3 linked regions of the Homo sapiens genome follow. The protein of the gene in region 1 purifies or fractionates together with the protein of each later gene. This does not show direct contact. Each region holds a gene or a part of one and is shown on either strand. Other genes may lie near its edges. The genes, in order: GPATCH2L, PKP1 and NEFH.

What was found.
Region 2: the proteins of GPATCH2L (region 1) and PKP1 purify together in Homo sapiens (affinity purification with mass spectrometry; one large-scale study listed by BioGRID and IntAct). This does not show direct contact.
Region 3: the proteins of GPATCH2L (region 1) and NEFH purify together in Homo sapiens (affinity purification with mass spectrometry; 2 studies listed by BioGRID and IntAct, with this or other methods). This does not show direct contact.

Annotation. Positions count from the first base shown.
Region 1 is NC_000014.9:76,172,278-76,175,928, forward strand, and holds part of GPATCH2L (G patch domain-containing protein 2-like), read left to right. Parts: exon of another isoform or gene 1-1,268; coding exon 1,269-1,348; exon of another isoform or gene 1,349-3,243; intron 3,244-3,651.
Region 2 is NC_000001.11:201,286,456-201,290,106, reverse strand, and holds part of PKP1 (plakophilin-1), read right to left. Parts: intron 1-3,651. UniProt on the Homo sapiens protein: A component of desmosome cell-cell junctions which are required for positive regulation of cellular adhesion.
Region 3 is NC_000022.11:29,486,718-29,490,368, forward strand, and holds part of NEFH (neurofilament heavy polypeptide), read left to right. Parts: intron 1-2,131; coding exon 2,132-3,651. UniProt on the Homo sapiens protein: Neurofilaments usually contain three intermediate filament proteins: NEFL, NEFM, and NEFH which are involved in the maintenance of neuronal caliber. NEFH has an important function in mature axons that is not subserved by the two smaller NF proteins.

The sequences.
Region 1 (3,651 bases):
GCCAGATTTAGTGACAGCTGCTTATCCTGATGTGAAACTAAGAGGTTATTGAGTATCGGATTTTGGAAGAGAACAGATTTCAATAAGAACATTCACATACATATTCTTATTTTCAGTAAGAGTATTCACATATAATGGTGTTTTTAAAACGGATGCTTTTAAAATAATTTAAGTAGTTTTATTTTAATGACCCTATTGGGACTTTAACACAAATATGTTTCCTTTTCCCTTTGCTTTTTCTTCAATTATGATGTAGCAAAGTGGGTGGAAAGAACCTAGGACAGAGAGATGGAAATGTGGTGCTAATACTCTGATACTGTCTACCAAGCTCTGTGATAGTCACTGCATTTTCCTGGGATGACAGGGTCATCACTTACGATATGTGACATTGGACAAAACCATTTCTTTTAGCACTATAAATTTATGATTCTAGGGTTCCCAGTAACCCATAATCAACCAGTTAATCAGTTGCCAAGAGTTTGTTGAACATCTGTGGGTGATCAGAATCACACTACGAGATGTAAACTTGTATTATGTAGGATTTTGTCATGGTGAATTTTTGTTTGTCATGGTGAATTTTTGTCATGGCGAACCAGCAGTTGGTGCTTGGTAAAGACTAGCTGAGGCACACATTGCTTTATTGAACATTTTGATGAACATTTCTAAAAGTTTCTAATGGACCACTTAAAATATATACAAACAAGCAAGAATAGTGAGAAGAAACTTAAAATGGCCTATAATCTCATATCCAGAGACAATCTCATTAATAACATTTTGGTGTGGTTTCCTCCAGTTGTTCTTTCCTTGTGTAGAACACATGCAGCAGTGAGAAAAATTGGGTTATCCGACACGTGCTATTTTCCCCATTATGTCATGAATTAGAATGTTTTTGACGTACAAACTAACATTTAATTTTAAATTAAAAATTATTAATAGTACCTTATGTTTGTGTGGTGTTTTCAGTTTATAAAGTCCCTTCTGCTTGCTATTTCATTGGGTCTTCAAAACAGCCCAGTAAGGTAGGACTGAGTGATTATCCCTCTTTTATAGATGGAGGATGCCTAGGTCAAAGGTAAATGGCATGCCTGTGATCATACTGCTAGTGACAAAGACCTGGGAATAATAAATCCTTGGCAAATAGCTCTGTGATGCTAGTTTAAAGGTCAATCTATTAAGATCCTGGGGGTAAAGCCTTCAGTGTACTAGAAACATAGGATTGCATATGGATTTTCTGCATTCGGTATCTGAGGCCTTCCTTCTTTTTTTAGGGTACCATACTCGCTTGAATCGTCTACCTGGAGCTGCAGCTCGATGCCTCAGAAAGGGGCGAAGAAGGCTGGTTGGGAAGGTGATACCTCTCACAGTTAGCTTGGCTCAGTGGGGAGATAATATTCCCTATGGGAGTTGTGTATCCTATTAACAATCAGAGGTGCTACAGAACTCCCTGAAGTTAATGGAGCCAACTGGAATGTGTTGGGAGTTTACAAGAGTGAACATTATGTAGAATGTGAATGGATATACAAATAAAAGATGAAACGTAATTCATATAGAAGTACTGACAAAAAAAAAAAACACTGTCATTACAGTGTCTATTGCCTGTAAACCTACAAGCCTGAGCTGTGTCTTCTGTAACTTTTGATTAATGTTATGTTATTATTGTGTAAGTTAAAATACTCTTGGCTTCTTTATGACTCCTCTTGAATTCATGAATGCATCTTTGTTCTTTCCTAATTTTGGTCTTTCATCCTAGAATTCATTAAAAAAAAAAAACAAAACTGTTACTGAGTTTCAAGAGCCCCTCCTTGGCCATGAGGGAGAACTATCTGCTGTTTATTCAGTTCTGCCTTTGCCAGGGATGGTACTAGGGACTCAGCTCATTTAATCCTTCCAGCAACCTACAAGGGCAAGCACCTTCAGCAGATGAGGAAAACTTAGGTTCGAAGAAGTTAAGGAATGTCTGATGTTACCCAGATAGGAATGGTAGAATAGAGATTTGAACCCAGGTCTACTTTTATCTTTTTACATTTTTATTGAATTTTATTTTTTACTCTACTTTGAGATTGAGGAATAAATTAAGACAGGGCTCATCCTCAGTCAGAGAAGATGGTGGTGGGCAAAGAATAAGGAAGGGAGAGGCATTGAGAGCATTAATTTGTTTGTTCACTTGGTAAGCATTTAGAATGCCTGCTAGGTGGCACAATATGTGCCACAGTCTGGCTTCCCTTAAGGGGATACTGTTTTATAGTCTGACCAGGGAACAGTTTTCTGAAGTTTTAAGCATGCAAAAGAAATGAGACTGTTTATTTCCAGACGAGCCCAAGATTCTTATTTCTTTTTATCTTTAAATTCAAGTTCAAATCTTTTTTTTTTTTTTGAGATGGAATCTCGCTCTGTGACCTAGGCTGGAATGCAATGGTGCGATCTCGGCTCACTGTAACTTCCTGCCTTCCAGGTTCAAGCAATTCTCCTGCCTCAGCCTCCCAAGTAGCTGGGATTACAGGCGCCCCACCATGCCTGGCTAATTTTTTTGTATTTTTAGTACAGATGGGGTTTTACCATGTTGGCTAGGCTGGTCTCAAACCCCTGACCTCAGGTGATCCACCCGCCTCGGCCTCCCAAAGTTCTGGGATTACAGGCATGAGCCACCGTGCCCGGCCTCAAGTTCAAATCTTGAATTAGAAGACATTTGATTATTGGAAAACTGATACCTTTCAAATTACTCATTTTACAGACAAAACGCTGCTTTTTCTGTTTTGGGAGCTTATTGTTAACAGGGATAGCTAGCAGAATAGCAGTACATGGGGTGGAAGAAGGAGAGGTTTTACTTTTATTGTTTAGGCTTGACAGATAATGTTCCCCCTGCCACCTGTGTTACTTTCTTTCAGCTCTTATAAAATAAGAGCCATCCACTTCCATGGAAACAAGTCACTTTATCTTGAAGGTTTCCCTTTAGCTTGCCTGGAAGGGAGTGAGGGCCTGTTGGATGTGCCTTTAATGATTTCAAATGAATAGGATAATATTTACTTGTTTAATTCATCTTCATCACCTTAAAGGGATATTTATCATTTCTAGAAGAGGTCACCGCTCTGCCCCCCTTCTTCCCCCTCCCCCATCTCTCTTCTGCTTTTCTAAATTGTAATCATAAATAATGAGTTTCATTCACAGCTCCCTGCCAGTGAGCTGCTAATTACACAAAGTACTGCTTGTAATTTACACAGTAATAAACTGTAAATTTAAACATTACGGCACTTTAAGTTAATAATTTTTCTGCTGTAACAAATAGCTCATTTTTCACCCATCTTTTCCCTTGGCCCCCCTACCATGTCTGTCTGTGACCAGGAGGCATAGCTATAAGAAATGCAGAACATGAAGAATATAGTATATGAAAACTTCTCATTTAACTCCACTACCGCCCGGACTCTGACCTCAGAGTAATTTTTCTACAGCCAGTTCTGCTGAAATGTGTAGCCTGATGTTTAGCACGGTCCACACACATAGATGAATATAGACACAAATGTGTTTGAAGAACAGCCTTGATGTTCTTGGCATTCACGCCCGTGACTTGTGTTCTCTCAACACAACAGTTACTCAGATGTGTGTTGGTATGCTTTCCCAGGTGCCATGGTAGGTAAGCATTGTGAATGTACTCAA
Region 2 (3,651 bases), on another chromosome or scaffold:
ACAGGCTGATTCTTTCTTGTGTCATCGGTGCAACTCAAGCTTTCTCGCCTCAAAACCTTTGAAACTGGAGGCAGCTCCTTCTTTAGGATGAGTGGAAATCTCTCTCCAGTAGGGGCAGGTGAGCCTTTGCAGGGATGACTCATCCTCTTCCACCTCCAAGCTTTCAAATAGGTCACACTTACTGCACCTGAAACATTCTTTCTCTTCTTCTCCAACCCTCCCCCTGCATTCAAAACCTTGCACAAAAATCAGCTTCTCCTAAAGATGACCGCACCCAGCTCTGAGCACTCCAAACTTGCCAGCATAACCATGTCAGCACTCAATCCAGCGGCTGACTCTGCACTGGCTTGTGGGCTCCTTGGAATGTGGCTTCTGTACACTGTGTGTGTGTGTGTGTGTGTGTGTGTGTGTGTGTGTGCACTCCTCCCAGAAGGTAGGGCCTGGGTCTCCCCAACCAAGCTGGGAGCTCCCTGAAGCAAGGAATCTTCACCTTTGGTAGATCCACACTCCACACCCCCAATCCCAGGCCCAGGTTCTACATAGAGAAGGCTCTCAGGACATCAGCCTTCCTGCAGACAGAGGTCATAGGGAAATCCGCTTTTTCCACTTTCCCTCCCCTCAAATCCTTCTCCTTCGTCACAGGGCAAGCTGCTCGGAACACATTCTTGCTTACTCTGTCTCCCTTAAGGCCGATGCTTCTTCTAGCATATTCTACTTTTGAATAAAGCCCACCTGTCCTTCAGCATGAAAAGCTTGAGAAAGGAAGCTCATTTTCTTTTAGTCTTGAAAATGCCTTTACTTCACCCTCTGAAATCTCTTTCACCCATGGTGCCCAGAAAAGCTAGGCCCACAGCAATAGGAATTTAAATGAGATAACAAGAACTGCCAGGAAGCTACTGCTGAGAGAATACCCTCAGAGGTGTTTCGGAGTGGGCAGGAGTGGACTGTGTCTGCGGGATGGTTCCAGCTCCTGGAGGGAGGACTGGGCTGGCCAGCCTCCTGCCCCCTCTGCTGGGCTGCTGGGAGCACCGTGGACATGCCTCCCCAACTCGGCAGCTTCTAGGAGATGGGGAGGGCAAGGAGTTCAGCACAGCCTCACCGGGCACTTTGGTGTGGCTCTTGACCTTTTCCTGGGTGTACGTACTGAACAGAAATGCTGAAACAAACTGGGTTGCTGTGGCCTGTGTTCTCTCTTCTCCCTCTCCAGCCCATGTGACTCCCTCAGGCTCTGCTGGGACGCGTTCAGACCTAGCTCTGCCACAATCCTGCTGCTCTTTCAGCAGATCTGTTCATGGCCACCACCAAGCCTGAGGACTGGGCAGAGCATGGGAGCATCCTGTGGGGACAGGATGGGCGTGAGGGGGCAGGGTGGTGGGTTAGAGTGGGCAAGGGTTGACGGGTTCAGGTGGGGTTCAGAGTCAAAGGCTCTCGCCAGCAACTACTACATTAAGTGTGCGTGTGTGTGTGTGTATGAGAGAAAGACATGGGTGTATGTCATTGTATAGGGGTGCTCCCCCATGCTGGATCTGTGTGAGTGAAGGACAGGGACTAGAACAGTGGTTCTCCAACTTGGCTACACATGAGAATCACCTGGGAGTTTCTGAAGTCCTGATGCCCGTGCCATCTTTCATACTCACTAAGTCAGAATCTCTGGGGGTGGGACTCACGCATTTGTGTTGTTTGAAATTTCCAGGTGATTCCAATATGTAGCCAAGTTTGAGAAGAGTGGATGAGAAGACTTTTTAATATGTTAGGATGTTTACGAGAGAGACACGATGAGTGGCATGCCTTAAGGGGAAGAGCTTTTTGGCAGAACAGCTGCTGGCGGTCTGGGCAAATGGTTTGCAGAGCTAGAGAGTTATAAAATCTATTTCCAAAGAGTGTTCCCATTGCAAAGCACTTTGGAGATGATCTAATCCAACCTCTGACAGCTGCAGAGACCCAAAGAGAGGCAGCGACTTGTCCAAGATCGCACACCAGGTAGATGCCAGGCTGGGCTCCTGACACAGCACAGCTGCAAGGACACACATGTACACACACATAACATAAGTGTGTGCATGTTATGTGTGTGTACGTGTGTGCATGTGTGGGTGTGTGGATTCATGTGTGGGGTGTATTGTGTATACATGCATATATGCATGTGTGACCTATGTGTGTATACATGTGTGCGCATGTGTCCAGCGTATGCCTAGAAGGAACTTCACATGAAGATATCTAACATTCGTCCATTTTATTTTGTTCAAACATTACACATCTTGTAAGGGTCACGGCCCATCGCAGAAGCGCTTCCCAGATTTCTAAACCTAGAACAATTGGCACAATGATACTTACAATGGTATGGGGTCGGGGGAGGAATTTGTACTTTTAAAAAATCTCTGTCAAGGAGCAGGATCCAGAGAAGCAGCATTTGCTGCAAAACACCCTAGAATACCCAGCATTTTTGCATGTGTTGTAACAGGCCAACGGAAATTCTGGCTAAAACTCCAACTTCAAGCCAAGGTACATTGTAAAGAAACAAGAATTGGTTCATTTGAAGTTTAATTGGTATGTTTCGCCAATGGAACAAGCTAAAGCACACATAGCCATTACCATCTGCAATCTCAGCTTCGGTCCCAAGAAAACAACCCCAGAAGTGATGCCTGTGGTCAGGAAAGGACAACTTTCTAGAAACTCTAATGAGCAGAACACTCGGGCAGAAGCTCATGCTGAGACATAGTCAAACACAAATACAAAAAGCCATCAAAGTGGGGGCTCCTGAGGCGAGCTCCTTCACTGTGCAGGCTGCGGAGTTCGTACAAGCATGCCCCCCTCTCCCCTGATGAGGGCTGAATAGACACAGGAACTACAGAAAGGGAGCAGGCACCTCCCCTGGCTCAATGTTGCCTCCAGCCCCTACCTCTGATCAGAGAGAAATAGAGGCTTAGCAATTTTAGATGGGAAACAGTACTTCTATGAAGAAGGGAGAAAGAGAATTTCAGGCCAAAGGCTGAAATAAAAAATCACAGATGGCTAAGCAGGCAGTGAGACAAAGCAGGCAATGGTGCTGGTGTTGTTAGGACTTCCCTGGAAGGAGACAGGACAGGTGAAAGGAAGCTCCTTTCACTGAGCTGGGTGTGATCTGTATTCACAGTGGCGGGGGAGCGCTTGGGTTAGGGCAAGTGAGATTCAGGTTCAGCTTTAGGAAGAGATTCCAAGTGAAGTTATAAAGATCTGGAAGGTGGATAAGTGTTTCCTTCCCCATCCTCAGGGAGGTCATTTCCCTGGCAAAGATCTTTTGCTGGGTGGTGACATCCCCCTCAGTTTCCCCTTGCCTTCCACACAGTCTGGGAAGAAAAGGAGGCCAGACACCCTGAGGCACACAGGGACAGCCTGAAAACACAGGGGAGCAATACTTCAGGGGCAGTTCAAGATGGGTAGGCAGGTTCAGAGCAACCTCCTTCTGCAAGGTCTCCAGGCCACAGAAGCCACCTTCTTCCTGCCCGGGGCCTTCATGACCAGGGCAAGGTGCTTGTCTGATCTGTGGCATTTCAGGGAGAGCATGAGTGCAGACAGGCATTTTGTGACAGGCTCCAGGGGCCCTTCCTCCAGTCCTCAGTGGCTCAATACTCCCTCAGTGACAAGAGAGAAAAGAGCACTAGTGGAGAGGAACTG
Region 3 (3,651 bases), on another chromosome or scaffold:
TCGCTATGTTGGCCAGGCTGGTCTCGAACTCCTGACCTCAGGTGATCCGCCTACCTCGGCCTCCCAAAGTGCTGGGATTACAGGCGTGAGCCACTGTGCCCAGCCAATGAGTCTTGAGAGTGACTTACTTTCATTCTGAAATGATTTAGACGGTGGAAGTTCCTTATCCCCTCCCCAGATCCAGCCAGCCAGAGGCCTGCTTTGAAGGGAAAAGAGGTGCTTGAGTCAGGGACCTTTCAAACTCTGTCCTTTAGAGTTTCTTAGCTCTGCAAGCATTCATTTCTTGGGGATATAAAGTGGAGATGATAATAAGGGCAACCATGTCATAGGGTTGTCAGGAAGATGAGCTAATCCCATTCCCAAGCTAATCCAGGAAGCACAGGTACCACTGGGCTGCTACAGAGGGAACCCTTAGTCAGTGGCAGCCTTGAGAAATCCAGTCTGAGGAATAAGACCGGGGGGAGCAGGGCTAGGGAGCAGGACTGATTCCCTGAGGACTTGTCCCAGTTCTGACTGGTGACCTGTGGCTTCCTACCTCTTGGCTCTCGTCTGTAATCTTGCTACTCAAAGCATGGCACATGAACCAGCAGAATTGGCATCATTCAAGAGCTTATCAGAAAGATAGTCTCTTGGTTGGGTGTAGTGACTCATGCCTGTAATCCCAGCACTTTGGGAGACCAAGGCAGACAGATTGTTTCAGTTCAGAGACCAAGCTGGGCAGCATGGCAAAACCCCATCTCTACAAAAAATACAAAAAAAAAAAAAATAGCTGGGCATGGTGGCACATGCCTTTAGTCTCAGCTACTCAGGAGGCTGACGTGGGAGGATCACCTGAGCCTGGGAGTTGGAGGCTTCAGTGAGCTATGATCGTGCCACTGCACTCCAGCCTGTCATCACAGAGTGAGACACTGTCTCAAAAATAACAACAACACAACAACAACAAAAGACAGACGCTCAGCCCCTCCCCAGACCTGCTGAATCAGAATCTGCATTTTGATAAGATCCCCGGTCATCTGTGTGCTGCTAAATTTGGGAAGTACTAGTCTGAGGGGTAACCCCCACACTTACTCTGAGACAAGCATTCTGCCAAGTCTTTTCCATTCATTGTCTCACTGAAACAACCCTCTGACGTAGGGACTCTAATGACCCTCTTTTTCCAGTGAGGAAATTGAGGCTCAAAGAGTTGGTGTGTCTTGGCCAAGGTCACCCATCTAGTGAGGAGCAAAGCCAAGAGGAGAAACTGCGGCCTCTACCCTATTCCTGAAACTCAAAAGATGGTAATACAGGGTGATGAGAGACACTCGCGATTCAAATGGGAGCGTTCTAAGACCTCTTAAACCCAAATTTATAAAAGTAGAATTGTGGTCGGGTGCGGTGGCTCACACCTGTAATCCCAGCACTTTGGGAGGCCTAGGCGGGTGGATCGGCTGAGGTCAGGAGTTCGAGACCAGCCTGACCAATATGGTGAAACCCCCGTCTCTACTAAAAATACAAAAATTAACTGGACGTGGTGGCGTGCGCCTGTACTCCCAGCTACTCAGTAGGCTGAGACAGGAGAATTGCTTGAAGCTGGGGGAATTGCTTGAATCTGGGAGGCAGAGGTTGCAGTGAACTGAGATTGTACCACTGGACTCCAGCCTAGGTGACAGAGCAAGACTCCGTCTCAAAAAAAGGAAAAAAAAAAGTGGAATTGTTTGCTCAGGCTCCCAGGGTTCTCTTGAATAATATTTTAGTTTGAGGGACAATAAATTTAACTTTTGTTAAATTTATTTAGGAGCTTTCTCTTGAGGGCCATTTTTTATGGGGCAAAAGTTGTTTTATTTCAAAAGTTTCAGGCTTAGCTGTGTTGAAGAAGACCAGCTGTTCCAGCCTGGGCAACACAGTGAGACCCTCTCAAAAACAACAACATCAACAAAAAAAGACCAGTCCCACCGGGGTACACATTCTGGGTGGTCACTGGAATGATTTGCCAAGTGACTTTCTCTAGTCTCATAATGCCCACCATTCACATTCCTGTTCCACCAAAACCCATATCATTCGATGTCAGTGACCTTCAGGATAGTCTAGGAAGAACCCAAATAGTGAATTTGCCCTGAGTTTATACTAATGTGTTCCGTGATCCATCCTGCAGAAAACTCCTGGAAGGTGAAGAGTGTCGGATTGGCTTTGGCCCAATTCCTTTCTCGCTTCCAGAAGGACTCCCCAAAATTCCCTCTGTGTCCACTCACATAAAGGTGAAAAGCGAAGAGAAGATCAAAGTGGTGGAGAAGTCTGAGAAAGAAACTGTGATTGTGGAGGAACAGACAGAGGAGACCCAAGTGACTGAAGAAGTGACTGAAGAAGAGGAGAAAGAGGCCAAAGAGGAGGAGGGCAAGGAGGAAGAAGGGGGTGAAGAAGAGGAGGCAGAAGGGGGAGAAGAAGAAACAAAGTCTCCCCCAGCAGAAGAGGCTGCATCCCCAGAGAAGGAAGCCAAGTCACCAGTAAAGGAAGAGGCAAAGTCACCGGCTGAGGCCAAGTCCCCAGAGAAGGAGGAAGCAAAATCCCCAGCCGAAGTCAAGTCCCCTGAGAAGGCCAAGTCTCCAGCAAAGGAAGAGGCAAAGTCACCGCCTGAGGCCAAGTCCCCAGAGAAGGAGGAAGCAAAATCTCCAGCTGAGGTCAAGTCCCCCGAGAAGGCCAAGTCCCCAGCAAAGGAAGAGGCAAAGTCACCGGCTGAGGCCAAGTCTCCAGAGAAGGCCAAGTCCCCAGTGAAGGAAGAAGCAAAGTCACCGGCTGAGGCCAAGTCCCCAGTGAAGGAAGAAGCAAAATCTCCAGCTGAGGTCAAGTCCCCGGAAAAGGCCAAGTCTCCAACGAAGGAGGAAGCAAAGTCCCCTGAGAAGGCCAAGTCCCCAGAGAAGGAAGAGGCCAAGTCCCCTGAGAAGGCCAAGTCCCCAGTGAAGGCAGAAGCAAAGTCCCCTGAGAAGGCCAAGTCCCCAGTGAAGGCAGAAGCAAAGTCCCCTGAGAAGGCCAAGTCCCCAGTGAAGGAAGAAGCAAAGTCCCCTGAGAAGGCCAAGTCCCCAGTGAAGGAAGAAGCAAAGTCCCCTGAGAAGGCCAAGTCCCCAGTGAAGGAAGAAGCAAAGACCCCCGAGAAGGCCAAGTCCCCAGTGAAGGAAGAAGCTAAGTCCCCAGAGAAGGCCAAGTCCCCAGAGAAGGCCAAGACTCTTGATGTGAAGTCTCCAGAAGCCAAGACTCCAGCGAAGGAGGAAGCAAGGTCCCCTGCAGACAAATTCCCTGAAAAGGCCAAAAGCCCTGTCAAGGAGGAGGTCAAGTCCCCAGAGAAGGCGAAATCTCCCCTGAAGGAGGATGCCAAGGCCCCTGAGAAGGAGATCCCAAAAAAGGAAGAGGTGAAGTCCCCAGTGAAGGAGGAGGAGAAGCCCCAGGAGGTGAAAGTCAAAGAGCCCCCAAAGAAGGCAGAGGAAGAGAAAGCCCCTGCCACACCAAAAACAGAGGAGAAGAAGGACAGCAAGAAAGAGGAGGCACCCAAGAAGGAGGCTCCAAAGCCCAAGGTGGAGGAGAAGAAGGAACCTGCTGTCGAAAAGCCCAAAGAATCCAAAGTTGAAGCCAAGAAGGAAGAGGCTGAAGATAAGAAAAAAGTCCCCACCCCAGAGAAGGAGG